Homo sapiens: one gene and its partners. The protein of the gene in region 1 interacts with the protein of each later gene in a pairwise test. Each region holds a gene or a part of one and is shown on either strand. Other genes may lie near its edges.

The links.
Region 2: the proteins of DBP (region 1) and CLOCK interact in a two-hybrid assay, tested with the Homo sapiens proteins (one study listed by BioGRID).
Region 3: the proteins of DBP (region 1) and EPAS1 come close enough for resonance energy transfer, tested with the Homo sapiens proteins (one large-scale study listed by BioGRID).

Annotation. Positions count from the first base shown.
Region 1 is NC_000019.10:48,629,497-48,632,081, forward strand, and holds the end of DBP (D site-binding protein), read right to left. Parts: intron 1,557-2,585; coding exon 1,341-1,556; 3' UTR 534-1,340; downstream 1-533. Other genes in the region: SPHK2 (sphingosine kinase 2), read left to right, coding at 1-277. UniProt on the Homo sapiens protein: This transcriptional activator recognizes and binds to the sequence 5'-RTTAYGTAAY-3' found in the promoter of genes such as albumin, CYP2A4 and CYP2A5. It is not essential for circadian rhythm generation, but modulates important clock output genes.
Region 2 is NC_000004.12:55,442,281-55,445,940, forward strand, and holds part of CLOCK (circadian locomoter output cycles protein kaput), read right to left. Parts: intron 2,506-3,660; coding exon 2,353-2,505; intron 1,617-2,352; coding exon 1,407-1,616; intron 355-1,406; coding exon 152-354; intron 1-151. UniProt on the Homo sapiens protein: Transcriptional activator which forms a core component of the circadian clock.
Region 3 is NC_000002.12:46,384,315-46,387,265, reverse strand, and holds the end of EPAS1 (endothelial PAS domain-containing protein 1), read right to left. Parts: intron 2,758-2,951; coding exon 2,606-2,757; 3' UTR 569-2,605; downstream 1-568.

The DNA of each region.
Region 1 (2,585 bases):
CGGCCTGGTGCACCTGTGCTGGGTGCGTAGCGGCATCTCGCGGGCTGCGCTGCTGCGCCTTTTCTTGGCCATGGAGCGTGGTAGCCACTTCAGCCTGGGCTGTCCGCAGCTGGGCTACGCCGCGGCCCGTGCCTTCCGCCTAGAGCCGCTCACACCACGCGGCGTGCTCACAGTGGACGGGGAGCAGGTGGAGTATGGGCCGCTACAGGCACAGATGCACCCTGGCATCGGTACACTGCTCACTGGGCCTCCTGGCTGCCCGGGGCGGGAGCCCTGAAACTAAACAAGCTTGGTACCCGCCGGGGGCGGGGCCTACATTCCAATGGGGCGGAGCCTGAGCTAGGGGGTGTGGCCTGGCTGCTAGAGTTGTGGTGGCAGGGGCCCTGGCCCCGTCTCAGGATTGCGCTCGCTTTCATGGGACCAGACGTGATGCTGGAAGGTGGGCGTCGTCACGGTTAAAGAGAAATGGGCTCGTCCCGAGGGTAGTGCCTGATCAATGAGGGCGGGGCCTGGCGTCTGATCTGGGGCCGCCCTTACGGGGCAGGGCTCAGTCCTGACGCTTGCCACCTGCTCCTACCCGGCCAGGATGGCTGAGGGCGGAGTCTATTTTACGCGTCGCCCAATGACAGGACCTGGAATGTACTGGCTGGGGTAGGCCTCAGTGAGTCGGCCGGTCAGGGCCCGCAGCCTCGCCCCATCCACTCCGGTGCCTCCATTTAGCTGGCCAATCAGCCCAGGAGGGGCAGGTTCCCCGGGGCCGGCGCTAGGATTTGCACTAATGTTCCTCTCCCCGCGGGTGGGGGCGGGGAAATTCATATCCCCTGTTCGTCTCATGCGCGTCCTCCGTCCCCAATCTAAAAAGCAATTGAAAAGGTCTATGCAATAAAGGCAGTCGCTTCATTCCTCTCAGACCTTCTGCCCTTCCTCCATCCGACAGCCCGCGGGAGGACTCAGACTCCAGCACTTCCAGCAGCGCCTGCCCTCTATGGACGACAGCCCGGAGCTGCCCACGGGCTGCAGCCAGTATGCCAGGGAGCTGCCCTCTTCTTCCACAACAGCTGGCTCTGGGGTTCTCAAGATTTATTCAGGATCGTGTTAACGGAGGCGGTGGGAGGATAGGGTCCCTGACGTGCCGGGGACACACACAGAGAACCCTCCCCGCCCCCGCAAGGGAGGGGGGAGGCTCGCTTTTTCTTAAAAATATAAATGTATTTATCTGCATTATCACGTCCCTGGGGCACCCAGCTGGCCGGCCCGTGGGCCACAGGGCAGGAAGGGAACAGGGCGTAAGTCTCAGCAAGGCGGAGGAGAGCTCCGCCAGGTGGGGATGTGGGGCAGCCTCACAGGGCCCCGTGCTGGGCCTGGTATCGGGACAGCACGGCGCGGTAGTGGGACAGCTCCTGGCGCACGGCCACAACTTCCTGCCGCAGCAGGGCGTTCTCCTTCTCCAGGAAGGCCGCCCGCACCGATATCTGGTTCTCCTTGAGCCGCCGGGCGTCACGGGACCGCTTGGCTGCCTCGTTGTTCTTGTACCGCCGGCTCCAGTATTTCTCATCCTGCAGGAGAAGAGGGGGAGAGCACTGAGGTCCAGAGGGACCCAGGTCCCAGCGAGAGAGGAAGGGAGCCCCAGCAGCGGGGCCTAAACCACACCAGGTCTCTGCTGGGATAGGTACCCAAGGGTCTGCCTTTCTAGGGCCCTGGTTGCTAAGGAGATTGGGCCCCTAGCAACAGTAAAGGCATGAGATAGACCCCCCACCCTCAAGCAACTCGCTTCAAGTCTCCACTCTGCAAAGCGGACCCCAGCCCTCCCCACATGATAAAGGCCTGCATGCAGTTAGCTCTTGCTTGCTAAGGATGCTTGTTCCCTAGCAACAAGGCCTTCATGGTCTGAGGGCTTCTCCCAATGAAGAGCACTGCCCTGCCCTGCACATTGCCTTTCCAGATCCTGGTTGCTAAGGAAAGCTTGGTGCCCTGGTGATGGGGTTTGGTGTCCCATAAAATCCTCGCAGAGCTGGGGCCTTCTGACCTGGTTGCCAAGGCAACCTCATCCATCCTTGGCAAACAAAAGTGAGGTCTAAGTGGTTTCAATGACTGTGGCCAGCCTCTGACCTGCTGGCCTTGAACTGAGGCCAGAGAATAGCCTCCTCCCCAGTAGGACCTGACTGAGAGAAGAGCTGTCTCTTAGGAAAGGGGACTATCCTGAGACCTCCCCAGAGGATTATACCTAAAGTCCTCCCATCCTGGAAGTTGGTTCCTAAGGAAGACTCCTCCTTAGTAACCAAGGACCACGGGGCTCAGAAAGATGCTCTCTACTCCACTATTTAATTAAAGCCCAGTTCCTGCTTGTGAGGGTAAATCCAGTCCCTAGCAACAGGGCCCTCTAGAAGGAGAAACCACTGGTGTAGATCTGACTTCCAGGCCAGTCCTAGGTGCTTCAAGTAGCTATGTGTTACGCAAGGGTATGGCAAAGTCTTGTTTGTTTTTGAGATGGAGTCTCGCTCTGTCGTTCAGGCTGGAATGCAGTGGCATGATCTCGGCTCATTGCAACCTCCACCTCCCAGGTTCAAGCGATTCTCCTGCCTCAG
Region 2 (3,660 bases), on another chromosome or scaffold:
ATTCAGTGTTTTTATTTCAAATTTAAGAACATTGGCTGCAGTGAGCATCTCATTAAAATCACATTAAAAAATTTGATTAAGAAATCAAATTATTGTTTTCTAATCAATCGGTTTACAATTTTAAAAATAACAAATGAAATATGACAACTACCTTATCTGCCTGTCCTGAGTGAATGTAGTTACTGCAGCACTCTGGGTGCTGTTTTGTGGCATACTAGATGGAATCTGGACCATGCTTCCGGCTGCAGGCTGAGAAATCACCATAGTGTTATACAGTGGGGCTGTAAGAGTGCTCTGTGTCTGACTGGGTAGAGATGTTTGCTGACTGTGCCCACTCAGTACATTTTGTTGACTCTGTTAAAAATAAAGAGATTTTATAGACAGATTAACTGAAAATAATTATTTGGGAAGTATGCTAGAATTCATCATTCTAACAATATGACAATATGACAGAGAAAGAAGTGGCAGGATATATTACTCTGGGGGAAATATAACCACAAAGGAATGACTCGTGGTAACTGAGAATGAATTAGTCTTGAATATCTTGCTGGAAGGCAAGCTATGACTTTAGAAAGGAGTGTGATTGTAATAGAGATGATATAAAATATACTCAAAGAATTTCTGTTAAATGCCCAAAGTGAATGACTAATTAGTGGGCATTTTTCTATTTTTCATTTAAATCCTTGGGATTTACAGTCACAGATCTACAGTAATTACCAACATTTTCTGGAATATTCAATAAACCATTATGCCCCCTCCCCCAACAGTCTATTCTGCACATATGGGAACAGGCTTCCTGGTCAGCCTCTTGAGCAAGTCATACCTTTTAAACACAGAAATAGTCTAAGTTACAAGAACTTGGTATAACTACTAGACTACATCTTTAAACAGATTGTGACATATTTTAAAGCTCAGCCAGGCGCAGTGGCTCACACCTGTAATCCCAGCACTTTGGGAGGCTGAGGTGGGCGATCACCTGAGGTCAGGAGTTTGAGATCAGCCAGGCCAACATGGTGAAACCCCATCTCTACTAAAAATATGAAAATCAGCCTGGCATGGTGGTGGGTGCCTATAATCCCAGCTACTCGGGAGGTTGGGGCAGGAGAATCGCTTCAACCCAGGAGGCGGAGGTTGCAGTAATCTAAGGTCACGCCATTGCACTCCAGCCTGGGCAACAGGAGCAAAACTCCGTCTCAAAAAAAAAAAAAGAAAAAAAAAAGCTGAAAATATTTGATACTAACATGATTTGCACAAAATATTTTAATAATCACTCTCAATACTATACTTTCTAAATACTATTAAATTTTGAAATGATATTTTATCATTAGAGCTTTATTTCTGCTTCAGCAATAGTGTGCCTTCCAACCACTGATCACTCCATAGCCCGCTGTGCTCAGTAACATTACCTGAGTTGATGTACTCTGTAAAGTCTGTTGTTGTATCATGTGCTGAGTTGTGCCAATGTGTCCAGTATTCATTCCACTTTGAATCTGGTTAGTAGGAACAACTTGGCCTTGCATATTTATAGGTGCAAGTTGCTGGATATTAGATGAATTTCCAGAAGAAAGTTGAACGGAACCAAAATTCAACCCAGGATTTGATTGTTGCAAAAACATCTTTAAAAATAAAGATTATGTTAAAATGAGCTTTGTAGATTGAAAAGAAGAATGAGCATTAAAAAGAAGGCAAAATCAAGCTACAAAGTATGTTTAAAAAGCAAGTAACAAGGCTAAGTCACTTTGAAGAATTAGCAATAAATAAGTAGTGAATAAAATATGAAACTTTATATTCAATCTTTCAGTTATCTTGTTTCCAATTGTTAGAAAAAGTGTAACTAGTGTTAGTCTGTGGATTGACAGCTCTGTATCACTTATCATTTATAATTTATAACATCACACAGAAGTAGTTTTCACTCCAAGTTTCCCTTTACCAAAGTCATAGTCTCCTAGAGTGGTCCTGCTGGTTGGTCATATAAGACTAATTTGAATCATACATACTGGTATCTTAATAAAAATATTACTGATGATTGATTTATAAATTCTGTACCCAAGATGTACCTAAAACTTTATGTAAAATATAATTTTTATATTATGGATTCAAACTTACTAAAATTTGGACTGGTAAAAAAAGATGACTGGAGAAACAAGGATGTTGACAGAAATACCCTCAGAAACAAATTATCTTTAGAGACTGTAAGTATAATCATACTGAGTAGGTAACCAGTGAATATTTATTGAACTGAATTGATAAAACGTATCTCTTGCATCTCACTTTTAATTAAGAAAAGTTAATTTTCCTAGAAATCCAAAATGTGAATGGGATGCTTTGTTTGTATTCAAATATAACAATTACCTGCAGCCCCTGACCATGGACCATCTGAAGTTGTTCTTGAATTTTTCTTAGTTCTTCTTGTTGCCGATGAATATTTGCTTCTATCATGCGTGTCCGTTGTTCCAATTGGTCTTTCAGATGTTGCATGGCTCCTAATTGAGCTGAAAACTGAAACTGAAGTACCATGTACGGAAAAAGTGTAATATATTTTAGAATTACTTACTCCTTATAATTGCACAACATGAAAAGTAAGCAGTATAACATGAGTGAAGGATGATAACATCCTTCACTAGTTATGTCCCTTAGTTTCTAATCCACCCATCTTTGCTCTGCTTTGTAATATTGGACCTGGACCTTCAAAATATTTCTCCTTTGCCAGCAGGCACAAAGTTATCCACATCAGTAGGTGGTGCTGGAGGGACACTGCCAAGAAAGTGCTCAACTCCTGGTTCTGGTGCTTCTTGCTCTTATGTCAGGGTGCCAACGGGAAGCTTTTAATATTTTCTCAACCACGTTTAACATATGATATGGTCTGGTTATTGTTAATTTCTGAAATCAAAGTTGTGTGCCCTGAAATGTAATTTAGTATCCCAAATACAAACTATTGAAGATAGAGTTAAAAAGCTTTGGATGGGAAGGACATTTCTCACTTTTACATACACCTGCCCCGGCAGGTGGCTTTCCAGCAAGTCTCAATGACATCCTAGTGGGCAGCTTCCCTGCAAGCTTTACCAGTACCCCAGCTGATGGCTTCCAGCTCTCTACCTCTAATCTGTGGCATGTCAGTGAACTTCTCTATTATCCAGTTGCTATAGCCACATTTGCCCCAAGAAGATCTGCATCTTAGCCTGGCATGGGGGAAGAGGAGGTTAGGAGCTTGTGGGGAGTCTTCTAAGTATGTTCCTTCCTTGGGTACTCTCCATCTACCTTACAGCTAGTGGTTGCTCTCTGCATCTGCTATTTCTATATTCTTTTTTTTTTTTTTTTTTTTTTTTTTGAGACAGGATCTCACTCTGTCACCCAGGCTGGAAAGCAGTGGTGCGATCATGGCTCTCTACAGCCTTAACTTTCTGGGTTCAAGAGCTCCTCCCATCTCAGCCTCCCCAGTGGCTGGGACTACAGGCATGCACCACCACACCTGGCTAACATAAAAATGTATTTTCTTGTAAAAATAGGGTCTTGCTATGTTGCCCATGCTGGTCTTGAACTCATTGGCTCAAGAAGTCCTCCTACTTCGGCCTTCCAAAGTGCTAAGAATACAGGCATGAGCCACCACACCCAGCTTTATTCCTATATTCTTTAGGTTCTCTTTACTTCTTTTAGGAGTTA
Region 3 (2,951 bases), on another chromosome or scaffold:
TGATCTGGAAAAGTGAAATTTGAATTGGGGAACATATCATGCTCATGTCCAGTTCTGGGCTTTCACTGTGCTCTGTCTCTGGCCGAGGGGATCTCTGCTCTTCCCAATCACAGTCTACCTGGGAAGACCCTACTCCAGCCCAGCCGCCTCCAAATTGAAGTCCTAATGCCCAGGCTGCCCCTTTCCCTTCGGGACCTCCATCCCAAAGTGCACTATGTGAATATACAGAACAGTGTGGCTCTCAAACGACTTCATGTAATTTTCTGAAAGCAGAGACCATGACTTCTTTCCTTGGGTTCCCCATAGGATACAAAAAATGGCCCCGAGGCACATAGATAGATAGATAGAAAAATACTTGCAGAAATATGGAAGATACAATATGAATTTTCAGACTTAGGCAACTACCAAGTATTTAACACAGTCTTTCCTTCACCAGTCTTATCAGCTCACTTCAGTAGTCTCATAAAGGTCTGTGCTAATGTTCAATTTATATGAACGACTTAATACTTCACTTTACATTGGCATAGCCCATGATAAATCCACAGGAAATAAGAGCCACCAGCAGTGGTAGGATCAGAATACTTTAATAAGATACCAGTGTCAAAATACATTTCCTTATAAAGTTAAGCTCCCATACAGTTATAATGTTGTCAGTAGGAATTCGACAATATAATAACGTTCATGAAATCGTTACGTTGACAGGTAGGGTTAATATGAAGCTTGGAATATTTTTCAGTGTTTTAGTAAAACTGCAAGGGTAAAATGCCCTTAATGCCAGGGCAACACACACAGGAAATCAAATACCAGCATTTACACGTCAGTAACCCTTCAAGTTCTGCCACCCTGTGTGGGGTAATGCCGTGCAGCTAAAATATGATTTACGCAACACCATGACTAAGGAATTTCTCATAGAACTTAAATTTCTTTTGAAAGCTATTTTTTGTTTTTGGCAATAAGTCTATCCGGGCTTACTAAATAGTTGGCCCAATGTGCTTTGTGTGTGTTTTTAGAAACTTCTTCATTGTACCCATTACAGAAAAGTTCCATGTAATTGGTATTGAAAAACCAGAGGTGTCGTCCCTCTTACCCAGGGAGTTGCAAAGTGCTCTGGGAACACTATTTTCAGTGCTTCCTACCTACATGTCACTGACCGACCCAGAGACCTCAGCCAGGGCCTGTGGCTAGGGGCCATCCCTGGAGGCCTTGCGGGGCCATCTGGCTGCCGGCTGAGTGGGGGCTGCAGGGCTGGTCTGGACCAGCTGCTCTCCCGCTGTGCAGCCTCCTCCTCAGTCCAGCTCCACGGGGCTCCAAGGTCGTGAGCTTGGAGGACGTGGACGGGGTCACTATACCATTTTTGACCCCTCATTTGCATGAATTCCCGTCTAAACCATCTCATGGTAGTTCTGGAAATGTCCAAATGTGCCGTGTGAAAGACCATCCGAGTCACATAGCTCAGTGCACTTGAAGGGCTAGCAACAAAACCTTAAGAAAAGTTAGAGCACTTCCCCGCCCCACCCCCCGACCCCACAACGTGCCATCAGACCCTCTTGGCAGCAATAATAATAATACATACATACATAGTACATAGAGAATGTGAGGGGATAGCGCGCAGTGCTCCCGCTGAATGACTCCACTGCTCGGATTGTCACACCTATGGCATATCACAGATGGCAAAAAGCCGACAGAGGGAGGCCTTCCACAGTGTCCGTACAGGCCGTGGGAGCACTGGACAAGTCTGCAGTGTCCACAACACTAAGAAAAATTAACAGCTTCGAAAAGATCTTAAAGTGATTTTGTGAGCAGGATTCCATTTCCGTTTCTAAGTTTTTAGATATTACAAAGTACCCATATATATGATAAACACTTAACCCAGATATAAATTTTCTCCTCTTTTAAAAAACTCAGTTATGTTTTTGAATAATAATAAAAAATCCACCAAATGCGGGGGAAAAACACCAGTTTAGGAAAAGCCACGCTGTGCAACTTTCACAGATAACCACATACGTTGGAGTTGACCCTTCACATTTCTTTTTTTCCAAAATTAGAGCAAAGAGTCAGCTTAAACAAAAAAAAAAAAACCCTGAAATTTACAATATGGTGATTAGTTTAAAAAAGAAACGAGAAGGGCTCTGCGAGGGAGACGCCACAAACCAAGCTTGGAAAGCAAAATCATTTTTGTTTCTCTTTGGCAACAACAATAACGAGGAATCTTTTTAGTAAAATGAAGCTAAAGCTTCTCCCTACAGAAGAACAGACATGCACCAAACTTGTTAGTATGGACAGTTGTGTGTGAGAAGGAGAAGGAGGGAGAGAAACCTATGGATAATATAAATTAGAAGTCATTGAAGGTGGGGAGGAAAAAAATCCTACAAAATTTAAGAACATTTCAGAACAGGTAAAACAATTGTGTACTTTAAAAATAGGGATAATAAAGTGAGCATCTCAGAAAAAGGCCACTGCTTGGTGACCTGGGCAAGTCTGCCAGGTAAGTCCATCTTGTAAATAGTGTGCTGGCGTTAGAAATACCTAGTTGCAAAAACAGACGGAGAGAGTGAAGCTGGTGGGACGGCGTCGGCAGAGGTGCTGCCCAGGTAGAAGGCCTGGCTCAGGTGGCCTGGTCCAGGGCTCTGAGGAGGTCCCCTCCTTGCAGGAGCGTGGAGCTTCCCAGCACGGGCACGTTCACCTCACAGTCATATCTGGTCAGTTCGGGCAGCAGGTAGGACTCAAATGAGGGCCCGAGCAGCCGGCTTGCCATGCCTGAAAGAAGGGTTGGTACCATAACTTAAAGGCCTAAATCGAACATTTGGAAAAGTGTCTACTTCTTTGTGACTGGGGGATACCAATAGAGCAGCCCTAATTTCACTCTGCTCCTTCAGTGGTGTCTGTCCCACGGCCTGCTGCATGCCCGGGGAACGTGTCTGCCTCCAGAACCACTGCCTCAGGTGGGGTGC